3 linked regions of the Homo sapiens genome follow. The protein of the gene in region 3 purifies or fractionates together with the protein of the main gene of each other region. This does not show direct contact. Each region holds a gene or a part of one and is shown on either strand. Other genes may lie near its edges.

Evidence for each region.
Region 1: the proteins of CDK20 (region 3) and CDC42EP1 purify together in Homo sapiens (affinity purification with mass spectrometry; 2 studies listed by BioGRID and IntAct, with this or other methods). This does not show direct contact.
Region 2: the proteins of CDK20 (region 3) and FKBP8 purify together in Homo sapiens (affinity purification with mass spectrometry; 5 studies listed by BioGRID and IntAct, with this or other methods). This does not show direct contact.

The regions. Positions count from the first base shown.
Region 1 is NC_000022.11:37,556,030-37,563,484, forward strand, and holds the start of CDC42EP1 (cdc42 effector protein 1), read left to right. Parts: upstream 1-4,450; 5' UTR 4,451-4,559; intron 4,560-7,455. UniProt on the Homo sapiens protein: Probably involved in the organization of the actin cytoskeleton. Induced membrane extensions in fibroblasts.
Region 2 is NC_000019.10:18,540,477-18,547,815, reverse strand, and holds the start of FKBP8 (peptidyl-prolyl cis-trans isomerase FKBP8), read left to right. Parts: upstream 1-4,242; 5' UTR 4,243-4,330; intron 4,331-5,820; 5' UTR 5,821-5,845; coding exon 5,846-6,137; intron 6,138-7,339. UniProt on the Homo sapiens protein: Constitutively inactive PPiase, which becomes active when bound to calmodulin and calcium. Seems to act as a chaperone for BCL2, targets it to the mitochondria and modulates its phosphorylation state.
Region 3 is NC_000009.12:87,965,838-87,971,537, forward strand, and holds the end of CDK20 (cyclin-dependent kinase 20), read right to left. Parts: intron 5,499-5,700; coding exon 5,310-5,498; intron 5,061-5,309; coding exon 4,939-5,060; intron 4,809-4,938; coding exon of another isoform or gene 4,794-4,808; coding exon 4,731-4,793; intron 4,083-4,730; coding exon 3,959-4,082; coding exon of another isoform or gene 3,938-3,958; exon of another isoform or gene 3,937-3,937; intron 3,513-3,936; coding exon 3,357-3,512; intron 3,031-3,356; exon of another isoform or gene 2,733-3,030; intron 2,337-2,732; coding exon of another isoform or gene 2,258-2,336; intron 1,836-2,257; exon of another isoform or gene 1,823-1,835; coding exon 1,625-1,822; 3' UTR 604-1,624; downstream 1-603. UniProt on the Homo sapiens protein: Required for high-level Shh responses in the developing neural tube.

The sequences.
Region 1 (7,455 bases), on a different chromosome or scaffold from region 3:
CATGTGTGTGAGAAAGATGGGGACGTGCTCAGACACCCATACTGGTCAGCAGAGACCAGGCGTGAGTCAGTGTAAGGGCATTACAGGATGGAAGTGGAAGGAGTAGATGGACAGGTGGGTGAGTAGATGGCCACGGGTGTGGGCAGTGGATCAAACAATGCTGGGTAGAGTGGGTGGGTGGGTGTACAGGTAGGTAAATGGATGATGGGGTGGAAGGATGCATGGGTGTGTAGGCGGCTGGATGGGTGCATAAGTGGATGGATGGATGAATGGGGGATAGGCAATGGGTCAATGGAAGGGTGGGTAAGTAAGTGGTTGAGTGATTGGATGTATGTGAGTAGCAGATCAAGACATGGACAGGAAGTAGGTGGGTAAATGGGTGCATGGAAGGGAGGGCAGATGGATGGACAGGGGAGTGGGCAGTGGGTAGATGGATGAATTAGCGATCGCATCGACAGATGGATGGACCAGTGGACACTCAAGAGCTGGAGAACGGGAAAGACCAATCAGTGGTCAATGAGCAGATGCATTAACTGACCAAAAGCCCAGCCAGACTTTGGGGTACAAAGGGGACATGCACCCTAGGGAGGGGCTGATAGTTGTGGCCTCAGTTGAAGGCTCCCATCCCAAACCTCCCTGGAACCTGGAAGCAGCCACTGGCATTCCTGGGTCCCCAAGGAGGAAATACTTCTCCGTAGCTCTGCCCTGCCCCCTCCTCCCTGGCTCCATAGACTGCTCCCTGCCCAGGACCTGCCTCCTTCCCTTAGGCCCCTTGCCTTGGCCAACCCAATCTGCTGGGCTGAGTGGAGGGGGCAGCTGAGCCCTGGGACTATAGCCTGAGGAGCCTGGTTCCTTCAAGACAGGGAGGTAGGGGATCCTGAGCTCTGGGCGGTTGGTTCACCTAGCAGCTCCCCGTCCCCAGCTGGGAGGCATTTGTTCTGCATTCTGCACGATGATTACAGCCCTGCCAAGGTTAACCCCTGCACTCCTGGGCACAGCCTCTCAAAGGGAAGGAAGGGGACCGCAGGAAATTGGGGGAGGAGAAAAGCATGATAAAGGGAGACTGCCCAACCCTGGATCCTTCTTGGGGATATTGAAACTTCTCCCTTTCTCCCGTTTTCCAGAGGGAAAAACTGAGTCAGATCCTTAAATCAGGAGTGGAGCCAGGAACAAGGGCACAGCCTACATGGAGATAGGTTTCTATCTGGAGGCAGGCTGCAAAGGAGGGAGAGGGCTCCTCTCTGCCTCAGCTTACCCAGATGTAAAAGGGGGCAAGAATTCCTGATTCACAGGTTGCCTGTCAATGAGCTGGAGAAGACAAAGCGTGTGGCATATATAGTAGGGAGGTTCTCAACCTCTTGTTCTTTCCTGCCTGCCCTCCCTGCCCGCGGGTGAAGAAGATGGAGCAAGCATGGGGCAGGTTGTAACCACTTCCATCAGGACTGCTTGCTCAGTCATCTGCCTGGGGCTCACAACACCCCAACTAGTAAATACCCACACTGCTATTATACCCATTTCAGAGATGAGAAACTTGAGGCTCAAATGGGCCAAGTGCTTTGCCCACGGTCAGCCACTGGGCCAGGATTTGAGCTCAGGGCCTTTGACATTGCACCAGACTGCCTCCTTTACCAGCCGCTCTAGGGATCCTCTGACTAGAGTGACGTGTAATTGATTGTCTAACCAGGTCACCTTTGAGAATGAAAGGAAGTGCTATTAATAATTACACTGGAACAGTATGTGTAATCTGGGCTGTCCTAGGCAAACTGGAAAGTATGGCCATCCTGCCAAAGTAGGGAGCTTTACGCAAATCACTTCACTTATCTGCAAAAGGGACACCATGGCAGGACTTTCCCTATGGGGCTCTCACAAGAATTAAATGTCATAATGCATGTTAATGAGCTACAGGACCTGGTATGCATCAGGTGCTCAATAAGTGCTGGTTACTACTGATGCTATTAATAGTAATAACCACAGTAGCACTAGTTCTTTGTTTCCATCACTGTCCTTCCAGTCCATTCTTCACTCACAGTCAGATTTCTATTTTGTTTTTTGTTTTTTTGAGATGGGGTCTCGCTCTGTCGCCCAGGCTGGAGTGCAGTAGCACGATCTCAGCTCACTGTAACCTCCGTCTCCCAGATTCAAGCAATTCTCCTGCCTCTGCCTCCTGAATAGCTGGGATTACAGGCGCCCACCACTATGCCCGGCTAATTTTTGGTATTTTTAGTAGAGACAGGATTTCACCATGTTGGCCAAGCTGGTCACGAACTCCTGACCTCAAGTGATCTGCTCGCCTCGGCCTCCCAAAGTGCTGGGATTACAAGTGTGAGCCACCGCGCCCGGCACTTTTTTATTTTTATTTTTTAAGATGGAGTCTCGCTCTGTTGACCAGGCTGGAGTGCCGTGGTGCGATCTCAGCTCACTGCAACCTCCGCTTCCCAGGTTCAAGCAATTCTCCCTGCCTCAGCCTCCCGAGTAGCTGGGATTACAGGCACCCGCCACCACGCCTGGCTAATTTTTGTATTTTTAGTTGAGACGGAGTTTTACCATATTGGTCAGGCTGGTCTCAAACTCCCAGCCTCAAGTAATCTGCCCACCTCAGCCTCCCAAAGTGCTGGGATTACAGGCGTGAGCAACCACGCCGGGCAACAGTCAGTCTTCTAAATGTACACCTGCCAGTGCTGCCTGCTGGCTCACTGTCCTGATGCTGTTCCAGTTCTCCATGGGACAAAATACTCCTGGGCCGGCCCCCAGGGAAAGAGTTCCTACTGCTGTGCCACTTGAGCAAATGCTAGAATGCTTTGTGCCTCTGTTTCCTCATTTGTCCAGCTGCAGAAATAGCTCCTTCCCTTGGTGGCCAGCATGGGGATTCAGGGAGCCAGTGGAAGAGGCCTAGCCCCTGGGTGAACAGTAAAGACCTTGTCTCCTCCACCTGCGGGTAAATACAGCTCCTCATCCCCGGCCACAACAGCGCTCAGCCAGTCTCCTTCAGCCGGGTTTGCCTCCGCTGCAGGGTCCTCCACTCCCAGCCTTTGCTGTGCTGTCCCTTGCCAGCTGTGCACTGTGCATTTCCACTGCCCTTCCCTCTGCCTACACGTCCTTTAAGACTTAACTCACAACCATGCAGTGGCTCACACCCATAATCCTAGCACTTGAGGAGGCCAAGGCAGGCGGATCACCTGAGGTAAGGAGTTCAAGACCAGCCTGGCCAACATGGTGAAGCCCCCTCTCTACTAAAAAATACAAAAATTAGCCGGGCGTGGGTGGGTGCCTGTAATCCCAGCTAGTCCGGAGGCTTAGGAGGGAGAATCGCTTGAACCCGGGAGGTGGAAGCTGCAGTGAGCTGAGATCATGCCATGGCACTCCAGCCTGAGCAACAGAGAGAGACTCCGTCTCAAAAAAAAAAAAAAAAAAAAAAAAAAAAAAAAAAAAAAAAAAAAGAGAGAGAGAGAGACTTAACTCAGGTATCATCTCCTCTAGGAAGATTTCCTGAGCCCCCAGGCCCTGCAGGAAGTATTAGGGACCTCTCTGTGCCCTGACAGCCCGAGGACTCTATAGTCAGATGGGAGTAGTCAAAGGAGGGCACAACAACGGGAGGCAGGGGCCAGAGATCTATCTCCCCTCCTTGAGGATGGCACAGGGTCCCGGGTATGGCTGATTCCCTGCCCTCCATGGAGGTGGGCGGGGTGGGGGGAGGGTCTGTAAAGTCTCTGAGATGCGACTTCATTTACCTGCCGAGCAAGCCTCCTAGGTGCTCTTGGAGCAGGAAACACTTCACACAACATCTGATGCTGCTATTATCTATCCCACTTTCAGATCAGGAAACTGAGGCAGAGAAAGGTAAGTAGTGACTGAGGCAGGACAGGAGCCCAGGCTGTCCGGCTCCAGGGTCCCGGTCTTGACGGCCACTCTACCCCACTCTACCAGTCGCCCCAGTATGGCTGTCTTCCTCCTGGGCACCGCGGGGCCTGTACCGGATGGAAGGGAATGAGAATGGGGAGCAAAGGAGTGGGCATGTCATGCCTGTAAACATCAAGGTTTAAAGGCCCAGGCATTCAAGGCCTCAGATCGAGCTTCCCGGTTCCCCGAACTCCCGCAGGGCGCGGCTGGAGGGCCCAGGAGGGAGGAGAGTTCATCAGGCCTGGACGCCCCAAGCAAGGCCACGAGGGGAACCGGTGGAAGAGGGGTTGGCGGCCGGGGACCGGAGTCGCCTCCCCGGGGCAGCCCGCACGTTCCCCGGCTGGCCTTGTCCGGGGTGGCGAGCAGAGGCCTGGCCTGGCCCCCCAGCCGCGTCCCTGCCAGCTCTCGGCGGCCGCGAGGACGGTGCCGGGGAGGGGGCCGGGGAGGGGGCCGGGCCCCGCCCGCGGGCGGGAGGAGACGGGCGGGAGGCGGGAGCGCCCACACCCCGCCCCCGCCCCCGGATCCAGCCCGCGGAGCCCGCGGCCAGGGCGGCGCAGACCGGCCCAGCGACTCTCCCGGGCTGCCAGCCGGGACGCGCGGCCGCCGCCGCTGCAGACGACGAGTCCGCCCTCGTCCCGCGCCCCCGGGGCTCGCGGAGCCAGGTAACAGCCCGGGCGCGCGGGTCCTCGGGGCGGAGGCCGTGGAGGCCGGCGGGTCCCGGCGCCCGCGGGGACTCTGCACCCTACTAGGCTCCCGGGGCCGGAACGGGGACGGGACCCGCCCGGGAGAGGCGCCCCCGGGTGCCCACAGGAAGGCCGGGCGCGGCCGCGGAGCCGCGCGAGGAAACTCCGAGCTTTCGGGCTTCGTGTCCCGTTCCAGGCTGGTGGAGGGGGCAGAGGATCGGACACGGCTGAGCGGCCAAAATGCGCGAGGAGGGGGCGAGCCGAGGGGCAGAGCGGGGGCTGTCTCCGCGCCTTCCTGCGCGGGGGAAGGAAGGGCCGGGGCGGGCAGCGGGCGACGCGGCGGAATGTCTCCCCTCCGCCGAGGCCCACGCGGAGAGCGGGAAGTGGGGGGTGGGGGGCCCGGGGAGATGGACAGGCACCCTGCCCCCCTCCCCGACCGCCGCATTCCAGGCTGGAGCCGCGGATGAGGTCATCCCGTCCGGTTCCCCTCCGGCCAAGACAGCCGGTCGTCCCCTTCCCCCGCGGAGCGACCCTCCGCGTCCTGAGCCCCGTCCCCCCAGGGAATGTTGGATGGCCGAAGTCTTTCCCGGACTTCCAATCCCGGCCGCCCTCCAGATTGTTCTGCCTTTGCCCCAGCAGTGCCAGACCCGCAACATTCGAAGCCCTTTTCCTAGACCGGGAAACTGAGGCTTAGAGAGTAGGGGGGACTGGCCGGGAGGCCGCAGCGGCACTAAACGTGGCGCGGGGACCCGAGACGCGGCCCGCAGCCGCTCCGTCTCGCTCGGTCCCGGGCTGGTTCGGCTCTAACTCGGGGCGGTGGGCACGAAGCGCGTCTCCTTTCCACTTTCCCCGTCGCTCCCTAATGGCCCACGGTGCCCCCCTTGGAATACGGAGGACCGGGTCCCCTAGCGCGACTGCGAACAACTAGCTACCCCGTTCTGGCCTCAGTTTCCCCGTCTCTCCACCTTGAAGCGTCTGGACTTTGAGGAGCAGGAGAAGTCAGCCGACCGGTTTAACCCCTTATTCCAGGGACCAGAGCAGGTTTGGGGGAGCTGCCGTAACCATGACAGGGACCCGCTGTCCAGCGGTGGGGGGGGGCGTCACCCAGCTGGATGCCCGCAGGAAGTGGGCTGTGTGCACCCGAGCAGTGGCCTCCAGGATGAGACGTGGGCCCCTGGCCAGCACTGCGGCCTGCGGGTGACCCCCAGGTGAATGCCAGGGTGCAGCCGCCCCCGCTCTCCTTCAGACCCGCCCTTGGCCTCCCCGCGACCACATGTGCCTCCACAGCGACCCCTGTTGGCCCGATCCCGGCTCCAAAACTTGTTCTTGCGTCATTCCCACCATTGAGTGAGCTCAGGCCATGTGCCCAGGCCCTGACTATCCTCTATAGGGTAAATATAAGGACTCCAAGGACACTGAGGCTGTGTGGTGACCTCCTTGCCCAGGTCACAGGCAGTGAATCTGCAGAGCTGGGTCTCCTGTCTTCCCAGGCCTGCACCTGCACCCCACACCGGGCTCAGCACTGGGCATCCAAGCCCTCCAAATCGTCTTCCCCATTCCCCATCGTCTTCACCCCCACCCTGGGGCATTTACCAGCAATGTTGGTCTGTGACTGAGGGTAAATGTCTCCTTTCTGAGCTTCGTTTTTTCCATCTGTGAAAGGGGTGTTCTGAACACTAACGGGCGGTGTTCCTGAGCAGGTGAGGGGAGGTGAGCCTGGCACCAGGACACTTGGAGCCCTGCTTACTCCAGTGCCAGGTGAGGCACACCTGATGGCCAGCAGTGCCCTGTGGTTGGCAGCAAGTGCCACGTGGCTGCCACCGGGGTCCCTGGAATGAGAGATGTTAGTGTAAAGGTGTCAGATTTGAACCCATGGCTGCCCTGCTCCAGTATCTGAGGGTTTCATTACATTTTCTACCCTTGCAACTCCCCTGGGAGGGGAACTGCCTGGTGTGCTGTTCCGTTTTCCACATGGGAAGACCGGGTCCCAATACCCTGCCCTCAGCTCCACAGCGCTGCAGAGTCTCTCGACCGCAGTAGGCAGGGTAGTGTGAGGGGTGGGTACTATTGGGGGGGTGCCCAGAAACATTTGAAAGATGGGATCATCGCAAGATTGGGGAGGAAGCTGGTCCCCCAAGTCAAAAGTGACCATGGGGGTTCAGGGGGGAGGAGCCCCTTTTGCTGGGAGATGAGGTGCTGCCTCAAGAAGTCAGGGAGGCCAGGTGTGGTGGTTCACACTTGTAATCCCAGCACTTTGGGAGGCTGAGGCAGCAGGATGGCTTGAGTTCAGGAATTTGAGACCAACCTGGGCAATGGAGTGAGACCCTGTCCTTACAAAAAGTGGAAAAACTTAGCTGAGCATGGTGGTATGTGCCTGTAGTCCCAGCTACTCAGGAGGCTGAGGTGGGAGGATCGCTTGAGCCTGGGAGTTCGAGGCTGCAGTTAGCTGTGATGGAGCCACTGCACTCAGCCTGGGTGACAGAGTGAGACCCTGCCTCAAAAAAGAAAAAAAAAAAAGTCAGGGAGCTGGGGTGGGAGCAAGTGGGTAAGGCCACATGGCAGACCCTTCTACAGGACATTGTACAGAGGAACACCCTTCCCGCTCCCATTCCTTCCCCCAGAGATGCATCCTTAATCCCTGCTGAGCAGGGAAACTTGGCCCTGCCATGAACCTGTCACTTAACCTTGGACAGGTCTCCCTTCCCTCCGAACCTCAGTGCTGCCTGTCAAATAGGCCACGCTGCGGCTTTGCAGGGTTGTTGGAGAATCAGATGACATCATGTAATGGTTGGCCAACTGTGGATCGCTTCAGAACTTCAGCAAACATTCCACGAGGACTTCTCGGTGCCGGGGGTGCCAGGGAGGGAAGAAGATG
Region 2 (7,339 bases), on a different chromosome or scaffold from region 3:
AGGGGCAGAGGCTGCAGTGATCTGAGATCTTGCCACTGCACTCCAGCCTAGGCGACAGATTGAGACTCCATCTCAAAAAAAAAAAGGTTCAGTTCACCAGGAAACACAATTGCAACTCTACATGCAGCCAATGATATGGCCTCCAAGTAGAGCAGTCTTGTTTTTTTGTTTTTGTTTTGTTTTGTTTTGTTTTTGAGATCGAGGTCAAGAGTTTGAGACCAGCCTGACCAATACAGTGAAACCCCGTCTCCACGAGAAATGCAAAAATTAGCCAGGCTTGGTGGCTGGTGCCTGTAGTCCCAGCTACTCCAGAGGCTGAGACAGGAGAATTGCTTGAACTTGGGAGGCAGAGGTGGCAGTGAGCCGAGATCGTGCCACTGCACTCCGGCCTGGGCGACAGAGCGAGATTCTGTCCCAAAAAAAAAAAAAAGGGAAAAGCAAATATAAGTAAAATGTTTGCCTGCAAATATCTGTTCAATGAGTGCCAGCCATTATTATTATTGTTGGTGGTGTTATTTTATAGTTTATTTTAGTAGCTTATTAATTTATAATAATAATTATTACTATTATTTTAGAAACAGCGTCTTGCCTTGTTGCTCAGGCTGCAGTGCAGAACTTTGATCATAACTCACTGTAGCCTCGACCTCCTGGGTTCAAGGGATCCCTCCCACCTCAGCCTCCCATTTAGCTGGGACTACATTTTTAAATTTTCTGTAGAGGCCAGGTGTGACGGCTCATGCCTGTAATCCCAGCACTTTGGGAGGCCAAGGCAGGTGGATCACAAGGTCAGAAGTTCAAGACCAGCCTGGCCAACATAGCGGAACCCCCCCATCTCTACTAAAAATACAAAAAATTAGGCAGGCATGGTGGCAGGCGCCTGTAATCCCAGCTACTAGGAAGGCTGAGGCAGGAGAATTGCTTCAACCTGGGAGGCAGAGGTTGCAGTGAGCCGAGATCACACCATTGCACTCCAGCCTCACTAGACTCTGTCTCAAAAAAAAAATTAGTCATGTGTCATGGCAGGCGCCTGTAATCCCAGCTACTTAGGAGGCTGAGGCAGGAGAATCGCTTGAACCTGGGAGTCAGAGGTTGCAGTGAGCCCAGATCGTTCCACTGCACTCTACGTGGGAGACAGAGGGAGACTGTGTCTCCAAATTAATTAATTAATATTCTGTAGAGGCAGGCTCTCACTACGTTACCCAGGCTTAGGTTGCCCAGGCTGGAGTACGGTGACGTGATCTTGGCTCGCTGCAACATCTGCCTCCCGGGTTCAAGCGATTCTCCTGCCTCAACCTCCCAAGTAGCTGGGATTACAGGCATGTGCCACCGCACCCGGCTAATTTCTGTATTTTTCGCAGAGACAGGTTTCACCATGTTGGCCAGGCTGGTCTCGAACTCTTGACTTCAGGTGAACCATCTGCCTCAGCCTCCCAAAGGCTGTTTTTGAGACTGGGTCTTGCTCACTGCAACTTCCACCCCTGGGGTTCAAGCAGTCCTCATGCCTCAGCCACCCCAGTATCTGAGATTACAGGCATGCACCACCATACCCGGCTAATTTTTGTATTTTTAGTAGAGACGGGGTTTCACCATGTTGGCCAGGCTGGTCTAGATTTCCTGACCTCAGGTGATCCACCCACCTCGGCCTCCCAAAGTGCTGGGATTACTGGCATAAGCCACCGCACCCAGCCCTCCAGGTGATTTCTTACATAGCTCTGCTATGCTACCACCTTTAACCTCCCTTCCTTCCTCAGTGATTTCCGTGAGACCCCACCACTACCTTTTGTGGCAGGCACTGTGCAAGCCTCAGAGCTATAACAATGAGAAAGAACAAAGCCTTCCCAGACTTTGGGGCTCTGCCAGTGTAGAGGGCAAGGCAGAGGTAAATCAAAGCAGTGGCTCACGCCTATAATCCCAACAGTTTGGGAGGCCAAAGTGGGAGGATTGCTTGAGCCCAGGAGTTCGAGACCAGCCTGGGCAACATGGGGAAACCCCATCTCTACAAAAAATATAAACATTGGGCCGGGCGCGATGGCTCACGCCTGTAATTTCAGCACTTTGGGAGGCCGAGGTGGGCAGATCACAAGGTCAGGAGATCGAGACTATCCTGGCTAACACGATGAAACGCTGACTCTACTAAAAATACAAAAAATTAGTCGGGCATGGTGGCAGGCGCCTGTAGTCCCAGCTACTTGGGAGGCTGAGGCAGGAGAATGGTGTGAACCTGGGAGGCGGAGCTTGCAGTGAGCCGAGATTGCGCCACTGCACTCTAGCCTGGGCTACACAGCGAGACTCTGTCTCAAAAAAAAAAAAAAAAATTAGCTGGACATGATGGTGCACCTGTGGGCCCAGCTACTCAGGAGGCTGAGGCAGGAGGATTGCGTGAGCCCAGGAGATAGACATGGTTGCAGTGATCTGAGATCGTGCCACTGCACTCCAGCCTGGGTTTCAAAGTAAGACCCTATCTCAAAAAAAAAAAGGCAGAGATATAAGTAAACTAGTTTGGGAAGCCGAGGCAGGCAGATCATGAGGTCAGGAGTTCCAGACCATCCTGGCCAACATGGTGAAACCCTGTCTCTACTAAAAATATACAAATTAGCTGGGCATGGTGGCGGGTGCCTGTAGTCCCAGCTACTCAGGAGGCTGAAGCAGGAGAATCGTTGGAACTTAGGAGGTGGATGTTGCAGTGAGCCGAGATCGCGCCACTGCACTCCAGCCTGGCGACAGAGAGAGACTCTGTCTCAAAAAAAAAAGAGAAAGAAAAAAAAAAAAAAGGCCAGGCACGATGGCTCATGCCTGTAATCTTTGGTACATCGAGGTGGGCGGATCACGTGAGGTCGGGAGTTTGAGACCAGCCTGACCAACATGAAGAAATCCCGTGTCTACTAAAAATACAAAGTTAGCCAGGCATGGTGGTGCATGCCTCTACTCCCAGCTACTTGGAAGGCTGAGGCAGGAGAATCGCTTGAACCTGGGAGGCAGCGGTTGCGGTGAGCTGAGATTGCGCCATTGCACTCCAGCTTGGGCAACAAGAGTGAAACTTCTTCTCAAAAAACAAAAACAAACAAACAAACAAAAAACCCAAGTAAACTAGTTATGAAGTGGACGTTCATCAACTTCATTGTGCCAAGACAGCTAAAGGGGGCACCTGGTCTTGCCTTGGGGAGGTTGGGAGGGCTTCCTGTAGGAGGTAACCTGGGAACTCCAACCTTAGAAGTGATCTCCAAAAAGCCAGTTACCACCTCCATGATAGCTACCTCCAAAAGCTGGTGTCTGACTCATCCATCCATCCATCCATCCATCCATCCATCCATCCATCCACCTACCCATTTATTGAGCTTCTATAGATGCCAGGCATGGTTCAAGGAGGTGCTGGGTACAAATCAGGTAAAAATCTCTGCCAGGATGAAGCAGAGTGAGGGATGGTCCCTCCAACCACAAGCAAAATAATGACAAGATAATTCTGGAAGGAGTAACTGCTAGGAAGGAAATAAAACTGAGTGAAGGAGGGAGAAGTGTCCCGGTTTCAAAACAAGATCCACAAAAACTTAGCTAATCAAGGATGCCACCTTCTTCCCGAGCCATGGGGACCTTATCACCCTCCAGCAGACAGTGCATAGAGGAGGAACTCCTCCCAGTGGCCCTGCTGGCTCAGTCGCCTGCGCAGCAGTAATCGAGCGCCTCCAGTATGCACCAGGCAACCTTCTAGACATTAAACTGTGTGGGGGATGGGAGGGAGGTTTCTGTATGCCTTTGGGCACGTCACTCCTCCTCAGGCCCTCAGGTTCACTTCTGTAACTAAGGCTTCAGGATGGGTCATTCAGCAACCCCAGAGCTGCCCTGCCCGTCAAGCTTGAACTCTTTAAGGAAATAACATTTAGAGTGGACTGTGCCCCCAGCAGCCCCCAAGGTGAGAGTGCATAGATGGGGGTGTTTATCCCCATTTCGCAGATGGTCAGGATGAAGCTCAGAGGAGAGGCAGGAGTCGCACAGGCTGCGCGATACTGACCCGTGTTGGGGTCCAGCCCAGGGTCCCCCGCCCCCGCCCCAGCCCCCGCCCCAGCCCCCGCCCCAGCCCCCGCCCCAGCCCCAGCAGCCGGGAGGCTTCGGTCCCTTTAAGAACGCCCCGCGGGGCCAAGCAGGAAGGGGGAGGTGCCAACGCCCGGGACGGACGTCTGCATGAGCCAACGGGTGCGGCAGTCGCGGCAGCGGCGGCCAATGGGCACGGCAGGGGCGGGGCCAAGCGGCCGAACCTGGTTCCCGAGGCGCGGCGGCCGCGGCTGGGGGCGGGGAGGGGGGCGCAGGACCCCAAGTGGGGGTCCCGGAGCCAGAGGCAAGTGTCCTGGGGTGCTGGGGGCGCCGTGCCGGCCGGGCCGCTGCCCTGGCCTAGGCTGGTCCGGGGGCTAGCGCGCCGGGGGCTGCGGCCGATGGGCGGGGCGAGGGGCCGCGGGGGTGGCGAGCCGGGGGGGCACGGGGGTCGGGGGTGCCCGAGGGGGCGCGGCCGGGCGGGGGTGGCCAGGGATGGGGGTCACTGGGGGCAAAGGGGATCCAGTGGGGGGGTCCCGATGGAGGCGTGCAGGGCCAGGGGCGCCCGAGGCGTGCGGGGGTCGGGTGCCCCAGACTGGTGGCGTCAGACAGGCGTGGGTCGTTGGGGGCCTGGGTCGCGGCTTGACTGAGGGCCCGGCCGGGGCTGTGGGGCGTCAGGAGAGCGTGGGGTGTTATGGGATCGGAAAGGGGGGGGCGTCTGGGGACACTGGAGTGTTTACGGCGAGACGGAGCGGCTGTGGGGGGAGCTGGCCCGTGCTGGGGGCGGTGGTGGTTGGGGTGGGGGGTGGGAGGGGAGGCCGAATTGTGCGGGCGCGGGGAATTATGGGGGTGGGGGCTGGGAGGGTCTCTCAAAGTGGGGCTCCGAGCCCGGGAGGAGCAGGCAGGTGAGGGTTAGGGAGGGGATGCGGCGGGCTGGTTTGATGGCTGTGCCACACTCTTCTGAGCTTGGGGCCTGGGGGACGGAGGGGTTGGTTATTGGTTCAGGAGGTCTGGGGCAAGGAAGAGGCTGTAGAATGTGGTGGGACCTCGACCACTCCTGGAAAGGAGGCTGCTTTGAGGGGGTGGGACCGAGGCCTGATGAGAGGAGGATGGTCTCCTGGGGAAGGATTTGGGCCAGGGTCCCTGATGTTGGGGTTGTGGGGGATAGTGTTAGATTCAGAGTGTGGAAGGAAAAAACGCTTGGGGTTTCTGGGTGATTACAGTTGGTGCTTTTGGGGAGGGTCTCCCCTTTGGAGAAGAGGCTGGAGGTGGGAGGCCCTGGTAAAAGATTCAATTTCCCCCAGTGGCCTTAGAGGCTCTAAAAATGGCTTCCCTAAGGCCTCGGAGGCTGTCCTCTCCACAAAAATCCCAGCACCCTTCGCTCAGCTTATAATCAGGCAAAGCCACAGGGCCTGAAGCCCCAGGTTCAAATCCTCCTTTGGCCTTTGGCTTTCTCTGTGACCTTGGGCAAATGCCTTTGCCCCTCTGGCCTGTTTCCTGTTCTGCAAAATGTTGAGGGGAATCTTCCCTACTTCCTGGAGTATTTGTAAACATTAAATAATAATTAGCTCTAATAATGGCTAACACTATTTGAGCCTGATGCCAAGGGCTTGATGCATGGGTTAATTTCTCCCAACAAGCTGGGGTTGTTGTTACACCCACTGTATAGATGAGGAAACTGAGGCCTGGAGCCCTTGAGTTACACAGAAAGTGATCGGCAGTGTGGGGAATCAGTACAGTGGAGACTTTGAGGGGCTGTGTAGGATTCTGACCCACATCTCTGCCCCCCACTTCCAGGGCCAATTCCTGTCCCCCCAGCAGCATGGCATCGTGTGCTGAACCCTCTGAGCCCTCTGCCCCACTGCCCGCCGGGGTCCCACCGCTCGAGGACTTCGAGGTACTGGATGGGGTTGAGGATGCAGAGGGTGAGGAGGAAGAGGAGGAGGAAGAGGAGGAAGAGGATGACCTGAGTGAGCTGCCACCGCTGGAGGACATGGGACAACCCCCGGCGGAGGAGGCTGAGCAGCCTGGGGCCCTGGCCCGAGAGTTCCTTGCTGCCATGGAGCCCGAGCCCGCCCCAGCCCCGGCCCCAGAAGAGTGGCTGGACATTCTGGGTAAGGAGCAAAGGTGGATCAGGGTGCCCTTGGCCCTGGCCCTCTCGTCCCCTGAGCCTCATTTCCCCATCTGTGCTGTGAGGGTTGGAAGTCACGTGGTCACCACCGTGATCACCAGCCAGAGGCAACTACTGGAGATGCTTCACATTGATGTACTCTATCCACTGACTCACACACATGCACAATGTGCTGTGTCCCCGTTTCCCAGATCTGCTAACAGTGGCTCAGAGAGGCTGAGTCACCTGCCCAGAGCCACACAGCCAGCACGCCAGGCGCTGGCAGCTCCTAACCCCATCAATGCATCTTTTTTTGGCATTTGTCTGACACATGCTTGGGCTCTGAAAAATGTGTCCTGAGTGCACGCCAGCCTGGGCAACACAGCGAGACCCCAACTTCCAAAACAAAAAATGTGTTCTGGGGTCAAGTGGATCAGAGGAATGTTATTTTGTTCAGCCTTCTGGTTGGTTCACAGTAGTGATAGTATTGTAAATGCTCAGAGCAATCCTACAAGAAGAAAACTACATGAGCCCCCACATGTTCCCCCCAACATACCCCATCACAGCAACTGAAAACAAGAGAAATGTTAGTTTTCTGTGGAAGACGTCTTGCTACTAGTATAGTACTGATATCTAATATACCAAATAATGCTGGTGCCCATGCAAATAATAAGATATCATTACCACTATCAATTGTAATAACAATACTGTAGCAATAGTTTCCAATCATATTGACACTGATGGAACAGAAATATTACTAAATATCACCACCACTACTGATAAAAATCTTACTACTTTTTTTTTTTTTTTTGAGACAGAGTCTGACTCTGTCACCCAGGTTGGAATGCAGTGGTGCGATCTCAGTTCACTGCAACCTCCGCCTCCCAGGTTCAAGCGATTCTTCTGCCTCAGCCTCCTGAGTAGCTGGGACTACAGGTGCCCACCTCTATGCCTGGCTGATTTTTGTATTTTTAGTAGAGACAGGGTTTCACCACATTGGCCAGGCTGGTCTCGAACTCCTGACCTCAGGTGATCCACCTGCCTTGGCCTCCTAAAGTGCTGAGATTACAGGTGTGAGCCAGCACACCTGGCCCCTAATTTTTGTATTTTTAGTGGAGACAGGGTCTCACCATGTTGACCAGGCTGGTCTCAAACTCCTAACCTCAAGTGATCCTCCTGCCTCAGCCTTCCAAAGTGCTGGGGTTA
Region 3 (5,700 bases):
GCAAATGTTATATACATTTTAGAGTTCTCTTTGAAGTTCTCTTAGAAGCTTACAGTCTGCAGAAGATGTGGCTGGAGAAATAAACAGAGGCCATATCATGAAAACATCAGACTTTCCTGAAAGCCAAGAACGAGGGTTGAGTATGTTTTCTCTCTCCACTAAGTGCTTGAAGGCCAGCATCTGTAGCAGTGTTAGTCACCCTGAGTGCTCACAGAAGAGTTTATCCACATGAAGCATAAAATAAACATTTTAAAAATAAAGGGAGCCTGGGGCTGGGCATGGTGGCTCACGCCTACAATCCCAGCACTTTGAGAGGCCCGGGCAGGCAGATCACGAGGTCAGGAGATCAAGACCATCCTGGCTAACATGGTGAAACCCTGTCTTGAGTAAAAATACAAAAATTAGCCAGGTGTGGTGGCACGCGCCTGTAGTCCCAGCTACTCGGGAAGCTGAGGCAGGAGAATCACTTGAACCCAGGAGGCGGAGGTTGCAGTAAGCCGAGATTGTGCCACTGCACTCCAGCCTGGGCAACAGAGCAAGACTCCATCAAAAAATAAATAAAATAAAAATAAAGGATGGCTAAGAATAAGTTTCTCTAGTCTGTTTTTATCCTTGAACCACAATCATACTCTTTATTATTATACAAACTTTTAAATATTGGTATCTGATACCGTAAGTCCTTCCATCATTTCCTCTTCTGCATCTGGTTCCACTTCCTTCCATGTATCTTTTATAATCACCTTATCAAATTATAATAAGGAAAAAGCACTAGCTGGGATTATATTGGGATTTATTAAATTTATAAATTAATTCCAGGAACGCTTGTTTCCTTAAATACACAGCTGCTTCTGGCTCACGCTCATCCTGAGGGAGTAGATGTTGGTAAACCAGCCTCATGTGCAGAGGGTCTCCTGCTGGATCCCCAACTGGAGCCATCCCTGGGCCTAGACTTCTGTCTCCCTCACTTCTAAATGAGTGCTCAGTGATGTGAAGTACACAGGAGTCCCTCAGGGCAAAAGTGGCTATGCCTGGTGCTACCCTCCCCATGACCCCAAAAACGAGAGCCATGAGACAATGCCACCTTAGCCATTTCCCTTGAGAGAAATGAAGGAGGAACAGACATAAGGCAGAGCCACCTGAGGTTTTTAGAATCTATATCTCACATACTGAACTAGTGTTTAATGGCTCTGAGAATAAAACCAAACCAAATCTTCCTTCCACTTGAGTTTCCAACATAAGGACACCTTACTCTCTGCACTTCTCCTTGACCAGGAGGCAGCACTCGGGGAAGCAGCACCAAGGCAGGCATCGTCATTCTGCATATGCAGGCCTTGACTGGCAGCAGAGCTCACTGTCCTGATGGGTACGTCAGTAGCACACAGAAGGTAAGGCTCACCGAGCACAGGCCATGAATCTCCTCTGCTCGACTGGATGTTCTCATACTCTTGGCTGGGAACATGACCTCTGCCTCGAGACCAACCCTCGCAAGGGCTAAGGGGCAGGGTGTGGTGTGGGCCCACTGTGGCCATGGGGAGGCCTTGGAGGGTGAAGCCAGGCAGGTGGCAGAGGAACAGGTGGACTGAGTGGTCCTGAGGAGCAGGCAGACGGGACCAGGGCCAACTTCTCACCCCTCCAGGATGAAGGGCCGAATCAGCTCTGGGTTCAACAGCGACTCCTCAAGAGGCCGGTCCACGTGGAAGTCATGGATGTGGGGGGGCCCTGGATGGGCCTTGGGGGCAGGTCCCCCTAGACGCTGAGGAATCGGCAGCTCAGATGGATGGGCAGGCAGGGGAGCTGTGAAGAAGTACTGATGGAGGAGAGCCTGAGGGTGGCAAGTAAGGAACAGCAGAAGGAAACTAGTCACCTCCCTGTCCCCAGCCTCAAGCAGATGTTCCTTCATCTATGCATTCAGCTGACTCAGTGTGTCTGGGTGTTTTCTGAGTGTCTACTATGTCTGAAGCACTATTCCAGAAGCTGGGAACATAGCCGTTAATAAAACAGACAAAAGCTCTGTTTTTCTGACATAAGTGAGGGTGGGGGGTAATAAACAAGATGAAGTAAAATACACAGTATGTCAGATAATGATTAGTGCAGTGGAAGAGAGAAAGCAAGACAGAGGAATGAGGAATCCTGGAGAGAGGTTGCAGATCTGAAGAGTCATGAGGGAAGGCCATCTGAGAAGTGACATTTAAGCCAAGACTTGAGACATAAGCAAGTGGGACATGAGGCTCCAGGCCAGGGACAAAAGTGTACTGACCCCTGGGGCTGGAGAGGAGTGAGCACAGGGCACAACAGCAGGCAGCGTCATGAGGTGATGGCACCCAAGCATACGACATCTGTGGGTCACAAAAAGGACCCTGGCTTTTCCTCTGAGATGGAGCCACAGGAGGGCCCTGGCAGAGAAGGAATGTGTCCTGTTCTACTTGGATAAAGTTACTCTGTCTGCCAGGTGGAGAAGAGATTAAATGGGATGAGGGGAGACCCAGATTCTGGGAGGCAACCCAAGAGATAAGGGTCACACGGCTTGGGTACACTGTGGACACAGAGCCCACAGGAGCTGCTGACAGTGGAGACCAAGAGGGCGTATGTAAACACACGCGGCTGGTGCTGAGTGCAGGGAGGGGACAGGGACCCCTGAGAGACACCCTGACACCTGTCAGCCCATGCTCCTGTGGTCATCGTCCTCCCAGGCCTACCAGCCATAACCAGCCTTCCTGGGTCCTCTCTTCCAGGCCTCTGCCCACCATTTCTCTCTTCAGCGAACACCTCCTCAAACATCTCATGCTTAAACCTGCCCTCCACCAGGAAGCTTTGCTTGACCCCAAAGTCGGCCTTGCCTCTCTCCTGGGGCTCCCACAGCTGGAGAACATGACCTCTTGTGACCTTTTGGACCTGGAGCTACCTCACCACCAGGAGTGCCCCGCGGAGGTAGGACTGATTGTTTACCATCTGTGCAGGGCCCAGGACAATCCCTGCATGTGCCAGATGTGCAGAAAATACTTGCTAATGGAATAAAGGAATGAGTCCCCAGTGACTCTCTTACTGTATCTGCCACAGGGTCAGGGGCAGCCCAGAAACCTGCACTCCCGGACACGCGCTCTCCTGAGAGTTGGGCATGCCCCTCGTATGGGCCACCCTCAGGGGAAGTCTGGGGATGTCCAGTGGGGTCTACTCATGAGAGGCACACCTGCTCCAAGGCCCCTGTCCCCTGGGTTCCAGATGTCTGGTGCTGGTCCATGCCAATCACAGGTTCTGAGGGTCGCTGATGTGATGGGGTCACATGGCTACCAAGTACAGAGTACCAGGGTGATGGGGAGGGGAGCTGAAGGAGCAGAGACTACAGCCTCTCCCCCTACCTTGGAAGCTGCGATGCGCTGGTGAGGAGGGTAGAGAAGGAATTGACCCAGCAGATCCAATGCCTGGGGAGAGACGTCAGGCAGCACCTCCTCCAGGGGCATGGGCACCTGCTCCTTAAAGGAGATCTTGTTGTAGTCCGGCAGCTCAGTGAGCTCCTGGGCCAGGGAGAAGGAACAGGGTACAATGAGAGTAGTTCCCGACCCTTGCCATGCTCTCTGCTGTCAACTCTCAGCCCCTAACACACACTCACATGGGGGGTGCTCTCCCATCCATGTGTCTCCCTGACCCATCATTCATTCACTCACCCACCCCTGTATTCCTTCATCCATCCCCTTGCCCTCTCAGATGACGACTCTGTGCACAGCTTGCTGAGACACTGCACATGTGTGTACTGGGGTGAAAAGGGACAAAGGACAGGATCTACCCCAACCCAAATGACAGCAGGAAGGAGGAAGCCCTGAGTTGGGCCAGGACAGTGGTCCCTGTCCATCAAGGGGGGTTGGGGCCAGGAGAGAGAAGGTTCAGGGGAGGGAGTGGTTACTTGCTGTTGGGAGTGGAGTAAACCTGCCCCACACCCACCTCACCAAGGGCCCCTACAAACCGGCCAGACTTGAGGGTTTGGGGTGCCCAAGATGCGAAGCACATAGCAAAGCTGTTCAATATCGTTCTTGCCCGGGAAAAGGGGGGACCCATTCAACAGCTCCCCCATGATGCAGCCCACAGACCTGTGGACACAGAGCCCCAAGCAGGTCAGAGATCTCCCACCATGGACCACAGACCCACCCACAGAGCAGCTCTAACACTGCACTCCAGGGCAAGGCCCCACAAGCCAGCCCTGGAGCCTCACGTCCAGAGGCCCAGTCCCTGAACCCTCAAAGCCCTCAACCCTAGAACCCAGAGCAAAGCCCCAGCTGTTCCAAGACTTCTCGGAGACTCCTGCTCTAGGACACTTCTGGGGCAGACCTGCAAACCTGCCCCAAATCTCAGACCCATGGGCACTGCCAACTATCTTCTTGCTGCAAAACAAGCTCAGAGCTTTCATGTCCAAGGACACAGGCCTCTGACCAGCTCAGAGATGCCATATCCTAGGATCTAACTCCAGCACATATCGGCTCAGACCACCTCCCCATCTAGCCCAGAAAGCTTCCCACCTGGGACCACCATTCTCATCCCACCTGGCCCCTACCCAGCTCGAAAACATCATAGTGAGGAACCCCAACCCCAAAGTGCTCAGAATACCCCAACCAGGGAAGACACCCTTAAGGAAGCCTAAACTCCCACCAGGGAAAAGACCACCAAACAGCTCAGAGACCTCAGAGCCTAGCAGAAATCCATGAGCCATGTTACCCTTTGACCACCCACAGGGGTCTCACCACAGATCGACGCCCTGGTCATACTGGCGGGCACCATACAGGAGCTCGGGGGCTCGGTACCACCTGCGAGGAAGAGGGCTGGCAGGCACTGGGCTGAGAAAAGGATGCCTGGGGAGGTGACCCCAGCCCCACAAGCAATGTCTGGAGAAAAGGCCCAGAAGCATCTCTTCCCCATGGAGAAGACTGGAAGGGATCTGGCCCTCCCTACCTGGTGGCCACCTGGTGTGTGTAGAGGCGGCTGCCGTCTGGGGAAAAGACTCGAGCCAGGCCAAAGTCCGCTATCTTGAGCTGGCCTGAGGCGCTGATGAGCAGGTTGGCAGGTTTCAGGTCCTGGGAGTACCAAAAGAAGCATCAGTCCCTCCAAATCCCCCATAGGACCTTGGGACAAGCGGGCTTGGCAGTCTAACCACTCAGGTCAGCCCCGGTCCCCACCTCCTCCAGGGCCATGCCCTGGCCACTTACCTGGAGGCCTTGACCAGCTCTGTCCCAACTTCTTATCACACCTTTTACAAGGGCTAGCCCCATCCCCAAGCCAAGTCAGCTCCCCAGACCCCATGCCCGGCCTATGCTGAGACTGACCCGATGTACAATGTTGTTGGCATGGCAGAAGGCGACACCCTTGAGCAGCATCTGCAGGTAGCTCTTGACCTGTGCCTGGGCTAGTGGCCTCTGGGCATGGCGCACCACCTCGGCCAGATCCGACAGCATGAACTCAAAGGCCAGCACAAAGCCTCCACCGTGTGGGAACACAGCCTTCAGTTGTACCACCTGTGGGCAGGACATCTTGTTAGCCCCCAGACTCAAGTCACCAGACCCTCTCTGTGACCCTGAGACCCCAGCCCATGCCCTGACAGAGGACCCTGTATCCAAAAAGACAGTAAGCAAAGAAGGTGACGTGGACCTGAGCTAAGAATCAGAGAGCTCGATGCTCATGATTTGCTCTGCTCTCCTGAGATAAGGTGTGCCCCCA